Regions from separate parts of the Homo sapiens genome. Here region 2 is linked to region 1. A link means that fine-mapping ties the variant in region 1 to the expression of a gene that starts in the linked region. Tissue or cell type: whole blood. Region 1 holds a variant in brackets; the other region holds the start of a gene. Each region is shown on its reference strand, or each on the opposite one.

Region 1 (5,380 bases):
GCAGAAGGCAAGAAATAACTAAGATCAGAGCAGAACTGAAGGAGATAGAGACACAAAAAACCCTTCAAAAAATCAATGAATCCAGGAGCTGGTTTTTTGAAAAGATCAACAAAATTGATAGACTGCTAGCAAGACTAACACAGAAGAAAAGAGAGAAGAATTCAATAGACACAATAAAAAAATGATAAAGGGGATATCATAACCGATCCCACAGAAAGACAAACTACCATCAGAGAATACTATAAACACCTCTACACAAATAAACTAGAAAATCTAGAAGAAATGGATATATTCCTCCAAACATACACCCTCCCAAGACTAAACCAGGAAGAAGTTGAATCTCTGAATAGACCAATAACAGGCTCTGAAATTGAGGCAATAATTAATAGCCTACCATCGAAAAAAAGTCCAGGACCAGACGGATTCATGGCCAAATTCTACCAGAGGTAAGAGGAGGAGCTGGTACCATTCCTTTTGAAACTATTCCAATCAATAGAAAAAGAGGGAATCCTCCCTAACTCATTTTATGAGGCCAGCATCATCCTGGTACCAAAGCCTGGCAGAGACACAACAAAAAAAAAGAATTTTAGAACAATATCCCTGATGAACATCGATGCAAAAATCCTCAATAAAATACTGGCAAACCGAATCCAGCAGCACATCAAAAAGCTTATCCACCATGATCAAGTGGGCTTCATCCCTGGGATGCAAGGCTAGTTCAACATACGCAAATCAATAAACATAATCCAGCATATAAACAGAACCAAAGACAAAAACCACATGATTATCTCAATAGATGCAGAAAAGGCCTTTGACAAAATTCAACAGCCCTTCATGCTAAAAACTCTCAATAAATTAGGTATTGGTGAGACGTATCTCAAAATAATAAGAGCTATTTATGACAAACCCACAGCCAATATCATACTGAATGGGCAAAAACTAGAAGCATTCCCTTTGAAAACTGGCACAAGACAGGGATGCCTTCTCTCACCACTCCTATTCAACATAGTGTTAGAAGTTCTGGCCAGGGCAATCAGGCAGGAGAAAGAAATAAAGGGTATTCAATTAGGAAAATAGGAAGTCAAATTGTCCCTGTTTGCAGATGACATGATTGTATATCTAGAAAACTCCATCATCTCAGCCCAAAATCTCCTTAGGCTGATAAGCAACTTCAGCAAAGTCTCAGGATACAAAATCAATGTGCAAAAGTCACAAGCATTCCTATACACCAATAACAGACAAACAGAGAGCCAAATCATGAGTGAACTCCCATTCACAATTGCTTCAAAGAGAATAAAATACCTAGGAATCCAATTTATAAGGGATGTGAAGGACCTCTTCAAGGAGAACTACAAACCACTACTCAACAAAATAAAAGAGGATAGAAACAAATGGAAGAACATTCCACACTCATGGACAGGAAGAATCAATATCATGAAAATGGCCATACTGCCCAAGGTAATTTACAGATTCAATGCCATCCCCATCAAGCTACCAATGACTTTCTTCACAGAATTGGAAAAAACTACTTTAAAGTTCATATGGAACCAAAAAAGAGCCCGCATTGCCAAGTCAATCCTAAACCAAAAGAACAAAGCTGGAGGCATCACGCTACCTGACTTCAAACTATACTACAAGGCTACAGTAATCAAAACAGCATGGTACTGGTACCAAAACAGAGATATAGACCAATGGAACAGAACAGAGCCCTCAGAAATAATACCACACATCTACAACCATCTGATCTTTGACAAACCTGAGAAAAACAAGAAATGGGGAAACGATTCCCTATTTAATAAATGGTGCTGGGAAAACTGGCTAGCCATACGTAGAAGGCTGATACTGGATCCATTCCTGACACCTTATACAAAAAGTAATTCAAGATGGATTAAAGGCTTAAATGTTAGACCTAAAACCATAAAAACCCTAGAAGAAAACCTAGGCAATACCATTCAGGACATAGGCATGGGCAAGGACTTCATGTCTAAAACACCAAAAGCAATGGCAACAAAAGCCAAAATTGACAAATGGGATCTAATTAAACTAAAGAGCTTCTGCACAGCAAAAGAAAATACCATCAGCGTGAACAAGCAACCTACAGAATGGGAGAAAATTTTTGCAATCTTTCCATCTGACAAAGGGCTAATATCCAGAATCTACAAAGAACTCAAACAAATTTACAAGAAAAAAACAAACAACCCCATCAAAAAGTGGGCAAAGGATATGAACAGACACTTATCAAAAGAAGACATTGAACACGCCTGTAATCCCAGCACTTTGGGAGGCCGAGGCGGGCAGATCACAAGGTCAGGAGATTGAGACCATCCTGGCTAATACAGTGAAACGCCGTCTCTACTAAAAATACAAAAAATTAGCCAGGCAAGGTGGCAGGCGCCTGTAGTCCCAGCTATTCGGAAGGCTGAGGTGGGAGAATGGCGTGAACCCCGGAGGGGC[G/A]GAGCCTGCAGTGAGCCAAGATTGCGCCACTGCACTCTAGCCTGGGAGACAGCGAGAATCCGCCACAAAAAAAAAAAAAAAAAAAAGAAAGACACTGATGCAGCCAACAGACATATGAACAAACCTGCATGTTGTGCACATGTACCCTAAAACTTAGAGTATAATAAAAAAAAATGCTCATCATCACTGGCCGTCAGAGAAATGCAAATCAAAACCACAATGAGATACCATCTCACACCAGTTAGAATGGTGATCTTTAAAAAGTCAGGAAACAACAGGTGCTGGAGAGGATGTGGAGAAATAGGAACACTTTTACACTGTTGGTGGGACTGTAAACTAGTTCAACCATTGTGGAAGACACTGTGGGAATTCCTCAAGGATCTAGAACTAGAAATACTGTTTGACTCAGCCATCCCATTACTGGGTAGATACCCAAACGATTATAAATCATGCTGCTATAAAGGCACATGCACACGTATGTTTATTGCAGCAGTATTCACAATGGCAAAGACTTGGAACCAACCCAAATGTCCATCCATGATAGACTGGATTAAGAAAATGTGGCATGTATATACCATGGAATACTATGCAGCCATAAAACATGATGAGTTCATGTCCTTTATAGGGACATGGATGAAGCTGGAAACCATCATTCTCAGCAAACTATTGCAAAGACAGAAAACCAAACACCGCATGTTCTCACTCACAGGTGGGAATTGAACAATGAGAACACCTGGACACAGCAAGGGGAACACCACACACCAGGCCTGTTGTTGGGTGGGGGGAGGGGGGAGGGATAGCATTAGGAGATATACCTAATGTAAATGATGAGTTAATGGGTGCAGCACACCAACATGGCACATGTATACATATGTAACAAACCTGCACATTGTGCATGTGTACCCTAGAACTTAAAGTATAATAAAAATATATTTAAAAAATCAATTGTGTTTCTATACATTTGCAATGAATACACTAAAAATGAAATTAAGAAAACAAAATCTGTTTACAATAGCATGAAAAAGAATAAAATACTTAGGAATGAATTTAACAAAAGAAGTACTAAACTTATACTCTGAAAAATACAAAACATTGCTGAAAGAAATTAAAGAACACCTAAATAAATGGAAAGTCACCTCATGTTCATGGATTGGAAAATTTAATATTGTTAAGATGGCAATACTCCCCAAACTGATCTACAAATTCAACACAATTCCCATCAAAATTCTGGACCAATAATCTGATCCTAAAATTTATATGAGAGCGCAAGAAACAGAAGAGCTAAAACAACCTTGAAAACAAACAACAAAGTTGGAGGATTCACGCTTCCCCATTTCAAAACTTACTACAAAATCTACAGTAATCAAGACAGTGTGGTATTGGCATAAGATAAGACATACAGATTAATAGAATGAAATTAAAAATCTATAAGTAAACTCACACTTACTGTCAATTGATTTCCAACAAGGGAAATTTTTTCCCATTGAATTGATTTCCAACAAGGGAAATCAATTCAATGGGAAAATAAAAGTCTTTCCATAAATGGTGCTGACACAATCTGAAAAAAAAGAAGTTAGATCCTACCTCACATCTGTATAAAAATCAACTCAAATAGGATCCAATAACTAAGTGTAAAAGCTAAAACTATAAACTTCTTAGAAAAACAGAGGTAAATCTTCATGACCTTGTAGTAGGCAATGATTTCTTAGCTACGACACCCAACATATAAGCAACAACAACAAAAAAGAATAGGTAAATTGGATATCATAGCATTTAAAAAAAAAACTTTCCTGCTTCAAAACACACAATTAAGAAATTAAAAAGGCAACCCATAGGATGGGAGAAAATTTCTGCAAATCATATATCTGATGAAGGACTTGTGTGTGGAATATATAAAGAACCCTTACAACTTAACAATAAAAAGACAAATAATTTTCAAAAAAGCAAAGAACCTGAATAGACATTTTTCCAAAAAAGATATATAAATGGCCAATATGCACATGAAAAAAATGATCAACTTCATTAGCCTCAGGGAAATGCAAATCAAACCTACAATGGGCTGCTATTTCATGCAGATTATGATGGTTCTAATCAAAAAGTTAGATAATAACAAGTTAGCAAAAATGCAAAGAAATTGGAACTCTCATGCACTCCTAATGGAAATGTAACATAGTACATCTTTTGGAAAACAGTCTGGCAATTTTTCAAATAATTAAATATAGTGCTACCATACAGCTCAGCAATTCCCCTCCTAGGTATATACCCAAGAGAAATAAAAACATATGTCCACATAAAACCTTGTGTGTGAATATTCATAGTAGCATTCTTAATAATAGGCAAAAGTTAGATATAACCCAAATGTCCATCAACTAATGAATGTATAAATAAAATGTGGCATAAGCATACACTTGAATATTATTCAACCACAAAAAGGAATGAAGAACTGATACATGACACAGTGTGGATGAACCTTGAAAACGTTATGTTAAGTGAAAAAAGACAGTCACAAAGGATTATATATTGTATTATTCCATTATATTTAATGTCCAGAATATGGAAATTCACAGAGAAAGAAAGTAGGTTTGTGGTTTCCTAGAGCTAGGAGCAATGGGGGAATGAGGACGGATGGCCAAGGGATTTCTCTTTGTGGTGATGAAAATGATTTAAAATTTATTGTGGTGATGGTTGCACAACTCTGTGAAAATACTAAAAACCAGTGAATTGTACGCATTAAATGGGGAAATTGTATGTTATCTGAATTATGTGTTAATAAAAACTTTTTTAAATTATTGATTTAAGACTGAGTAAAAGAAGTGGTTATGGATATCAGGTTATGGGTTTAAATAAGGTCATTGGCTGAAGTCAAAAAGTTGAGGAAATTCCCAACTAGAAACCTCAACTTCCTCACTGAAATAGAAGGCAAATC
Region 2 (5,367 bases), not on the chromosome of region 1:
CTAGGGGGGCGATTTCGTATTAGCAATTCAGCCAGTACTCACCTGTGTTCCGTAGACCCTAGCACTGTGTCTGTCATTGCTAAGCCACCATCAGGACTGAGGTCTGTTGAGGACAAGTGAGGAGAGGGGACAGGCACCTCACCCCAAAGCTAGGCCCACCTGGATCCCAGATTCTAGCAGGTTCCTCTAGTGCAGATTCACTTTCTCATCCAGCCAACCAATATCATAGTTGCAAATTCCAAAGCTATCATCTGTTTCACCTTTTAACCAAGTGCATTTTTTAAAAAGGAGATTTTTTTTTCTCCATTAGTGAGAATAGGAATCCAAGCATGCTAACATTGCATCATTTAGAGATCCAAGGAGAGCCACCCGGGAACCCCCAGAAGAATGTGCAAATAAGATGCAGTGACTCTAGAGGATGTATTCCCAGCAAGATGCCTCAAACCTGCATCCCCTGTGATAAGCCCACTATATCATTTCATTTAATTTGTCACTGGAAACCAAAGGAGGAATTGTTCCAGGTGATTGACAGTAATTAGAGGGAACTTCCACCTCTGGTTAGGAAGATGTCAAAAAAAAAAGAGCTGCACACTTTGACCCTCTAAGTGGCTGGATTGGCAGATTTGGGGAAGGGGAGAGAGTGGGATGAGGTCCCTAATTGTAAAGTGGGTCTGGGTGAATGGGGTACACAGAGAAGCCTATGTAAAAGAGATTGCATACGTAAAGTGCTCGGACATCAGTGTCCCCACTGGGCTTGTGTCGCTGCTCACGTACACCAGTTCCAGGCCACCCCCACCCCACCCCCACACTCACTGCAGCATCTCTAGCCTGCCTGAATCCTGGTTCCGTGGAGGTCAAGGTGATTTGAGCTCACTTCCCTGTCCATGGTTCTACTAATTCTGTTTTCAACTTCTCACCCACCAGTCCACATTCTCCTCTTTTTACTAACATTTCCTTCTCCCAAAAGGCTGCTTCCATCCCACCTGGTTCCTTTCTGCTGTCCAGAACCTCCCCAAGCATACAGGTCTCAGCTTTTTCACAACTGGCAACATTACACTCCCAAAGAAGCCCCTCCATTAGAGAAACCAGTATGATTTCTTCTTCCAAATAAATGCACTCAAGGTGCTTAGGGGCTAGAGAGTGTAATTCTAGCTTTTATATCTGTTTTGCTCAATCACAGAAGTTTAACACTCAAGGTTGGGTGGGATCTTGAAGGTCATCTGAACAACCACACCAGCTGATGGAGGAATCCACTTCACAAATGCCAGCCTTGGAACAAGCCCAGCTGTAAAGAACTTGAAGAACCTTGGAAGGTATTTACCTTCTAAGTCAGTAAATAGCATTGCTGTCTTTTAGCCCTTTTAAAGGACATAGACAATTTACAGAATGAGTAAATAAATGAACAAAAGAATGGACAGCAGTAGTAAAGACATAGGAGCAGATACAGTGTAACAAAGCCACTATTCCTGAGACTGGGCTAGCCATCCTAGCCAGGAGGTGTTCATCGTCACCTGGCTGTGGACAGCTCCAGCAGGGACAACCAGGAGACTAAAATATTTCTAGGAGCAGGTGACATCCAGCATTCAGACATAACCCCCTCCTGAGTACCCAGAAACTGCTAGTATTTCTTTGACCCCATATCCACAAGCTCTCCACATGCATGCCGCCCTCAACATAAGCCTTGGGTACCTTTCTTACCTGTGGTTACAGAAGAAAACAGGTCATTGAAAGGATGCAGAGAACCAGCCTGGCTTGGAGATTCTGGGCAGCTGACAAAAGTCACCCCAGAAATAGAGTGGCAGGTACAGAATAGAGCTCAGTCACTTCATTTCATGGTCAAACAGAGGCTGAAGAGTGAGGGTTTAGGAGACACCCCGTCGAGCAGAAGACTTACATGAGAGGCATTTGGCTTCCCGGGGACAGCTGGGCAAGCTCTGCAGAGAGGTGGGTTTTCCTGGGGCTGTCCAGCTCTGGCAGCCAGAACGGCTTCATGCAGGTGCCACTGAGGACAGCCCAGGCAGCCCAGCACAAGCGATTCTGCAGGTGAAACCCAAGCCTGGCCCCAGGAGGGGATGAGGGCTCAGCACACAAGCACACAGGCTCACGCTGTTCTCTCTCTCTCTCACACACACACACACATACACACACACACACACACACACAGCCTCTCTGGAGGGGAAGGAGGAGGAGCCTGTGACTCTCCAGCCTATGTCCGGTGGGGACAGATGCAGCTCTGTCCAGTCACCACGATGCTCCCTTCCCTGCTCTCTGGACCCCTGGGCTCCAGGATCACTGCCTGGGGCCCCTGAGTGCACCCACAGGTTCTGGGTCCTGGGTCCTGGGTCTGTCTGTCAATACAGCTTCACTGTATGTGAATCCACTTCACAAATTCCAGCCTTGGAACAAGCCCAGCTGTAAAGAACTTGAAGAACCTTGGAATGTATTTACCTTCTAAGTCAGTAAATAGCATCGGAAAAATTGGAGTAAGGACAGAGCTGCCAGCCAGCCCACGGTTCTCTCCTTGCCCTCCTCCCCTGTGAGACCCCTCCCCCCACCACCCTAGAGGACCACCGGTCACTTGCGCGGCCACCCGGTGTGGCTGCTTCTCTGTCACCCCGTCAGCCTCCTTGCAGGTGACCTTGCCTTTGATTTTCCGGTGAAGCCTCCTTTTCTCTAGTATCAGATGAGTACTCCTGTCTCCTCCTGTGCATGGCGAATCCTGGCCCACTGTGATCTTGACATCACCCCATCTATTAACAGCCTGGGCTTTCTCAGATCCTCCCTCTCTGCCCCACTCGTTCCTTCCCTTCAGCCCCTAAAGAAGCTCATCCTCCACCCTAAAAACACTCTGCTTTCGGCCTTTCCCTCAAGCTACTTGCTAGCTCATCTCCCTTATTTTGTTAAAAGCAAAGGCCCTGGACATGACCCGGCCACAGACTGCTGAGGCTGAATTTCTAGCTCTGCTCTTGAACAGCTGCATAATCCTGGACAGGCCTCTTCAGCTTCCTATGCCTCAGTTTCCTCAGATGTAAAAAGAGGATGTGAACAATGGCTCCTGCCTCATAGGTTTACTATGAGGAGTCAATTAGCACAAATAAACACAAACACACACGTGCATTGTGTGTACACATGTGCATGCGATTGCTAGAATCATCTTTTGAGAGAATTAAAAGACATAAAATACCAAAAAACCATAAACACTCATATTTCCACTATTCATAATTAATAAATGTTAATATTTTACCATATTTACATATATATAAAGTTAGATGTATACATTTTTCATTTGGAGACTGAAGGAAGGAAGGAAGGGAAGGAGGGAAGAAATAAGAAAAAAGAAAAGAAAGGAAAGGAAAGGAAAGAAAAGAAAAGAAAATCACAGCTTGTATCCATCAGGATTCTTGGTTGCAAGCAATAAAAACCTACCAATTACTTTAAGTGGAGAATGGTTTTATTGAGGAACAACGGGTGGTTCACAGAAGCACCTAGAAATCTGGAGGGGCTGCTTGGAGAGCAGGGAGAAGAGGGAAGCCTCTGCCCCGCGGCCAGCATGGTGGGTCCTGCTGCTACAGAGCTGCATGTGAACCTGGCACCGTCATGGGTGCCGCTGTCACCGCTGTCCCTGGAAGCAGCCATCCCTGCTGCTGCCACCGCTGCCACAGTTAATTCTCCTCCAGCCCTGCTCCTTTGTGTCACTAGCTCTGCATACAAAGGTCGAAACAGATGCATCTGATTAAAGCATGTGCTCCCAAACCAGATGCCAGGAAGGCCAAGGAAGCAGGAATCTGGGGTTTTGAGCTTCTATGTGGAAGGTGGGCTCTGCCCACTTCAAGAGGGGGGACATTCCTGAAATATTTGAAAGTTGTTTCAATGCTGGAAAGCACCCCCCTCCCCGCCACACGAAATCTAGCTCTTTGGCTCCTAACATCAGTGCACACTCGACTTTCCATCATCACACTTTGAAAAAAAATGTTTACATCTAATTGTCCTAAAATTTTCACCCAGAATTTGTTTTAATCAGGTTTGGTAAGACATGCAGACACAGAAGTGACTGTCATAAAGGAAGGAGTTTATACTCACAGATCCCTAGAAACAGGAGGGGTGGCACATTCCCGCAGGGCCACACAGAGCAGCACCAGGGAGTGTCAGGAGGTGGAGGGCACAATGTGGGAAGCCTGGCCCCGAGCCTTTATGAGGTTTCCCCGGGAAAACCAGGGCAGTGCAAGGAAGCAGCTTGCGATGAGATAGTTGGAATAATCTTGGTGGGCTCTGAGCTATAGGGATGGTCTCTAATTGCCCAGTACCTAGCTCTGAGGTGATTTGTGGCAGGAGGAATACTGGCTCGGTGTGTGAGAGTTAGACAAATGGTGCTGTTGGGGATACTGAGTCAAGATTAGGCAGAGGGCTTGTACTATAACTGTAGTGCACCTGCAAAAGCTGATTGCAGGGGAGATGTAACAAAGTTGGCTGTTAGTTTGGCCGTGCATATAGTGGATGCCAAACATACAAATGTAGAATCTAGCAGAATGCAACCATTCCTCACACAAGCAAAAAGCCTCCCCCTAACCCCACCCTAACTCCACAGGGATAGAACCCCAAGTCTCACCAGTGACCATCCAGCTCCAAGTCCAGCCTCCTGCTCTAATTCCTGACACATGTGCCACCTTGAAATTCTGTTTTCTATGGAATAAATCATAACGTTCACTCAAAATACACACATAGAAAGTAATGGGGTGGGCAGAATATGAAATAAATTAGCAAAGCCAGTAAGAAAATACAGACAGGTACAGTGCTCATTGTAGTAATAGATCATGAGGTTAGAGTGGGTATGTATTGGTTTCCTCTCCAGCCATTCTCCAGAATAAGCATCTACTGTATTCCACAAAAGCCAGATTGCTGCCTTCTCAAGCATATAAGGCATTCACTACAATCAACTTGCCACCAAGTGAATAATTTGAACCTCTGGGCTCTGCCAGCACATCCAGAGACCAGGGTTTGCCACTACTGCTGGGAAGATGAGCATTCGGGCCACATTGGGAACAGCTTCTGTAATCGGAATCACTTAAGTTTACAATGAACCACTGACATTCTATGAGACCCATCTACCTTAGGTAGCATTTGGAGATCATCAAAATTACCACTTCTGCATCCTTACAGCCTTTGCTGGTGGCCCTAATCCTTGGGATTCCTCTGGAGACATTGTATTAATTGCATTTATGGTTTTGTTAGGTAGGGGGCACTACACAGCTTCCTCTTGCTTCCTCCTTCAGCAGACAGATGATGGACATGTGCCATTGATAGGTTTGGATTTGTGTTGCCACCTAAATCGCGTGTTAAATTGTAATCCCCAATGTTGGAGGTGGGGTG

The links. PIP is the estimated chance that this variant, and not a neighbour inherited with it, causes the effect.
Region 2: it holds the start of CHRNA2, and the variant in region 1 is the best candidate, but not a certain one, in a credible set for the expression of CHRNA2 in whole blood (TOPMed, PIP 0.51).

Annotation. Positions count from the first base shown.
Region 1 is chr7:106,724,736-106,730,115 of GRCh38, forward strand. No RefSeq gene overlaps it. Among named protein-coding and RNA genes, the nearest start is that of LINC02577, 48 kb to the right of the region's middle. The variant G/A (reference allele first, on the strand shown) is at 2,455.
Region 2 is chr8:27,477,126-27,482,492 of GRCh38, forward strand. CHRNA2 (cholinergic receptor nicotinic alpha 2 subunit) reads right to left here and starts at 2,136. Exons shown (of 7, transcript NM_000742.4): 1 at 1,699-2,136.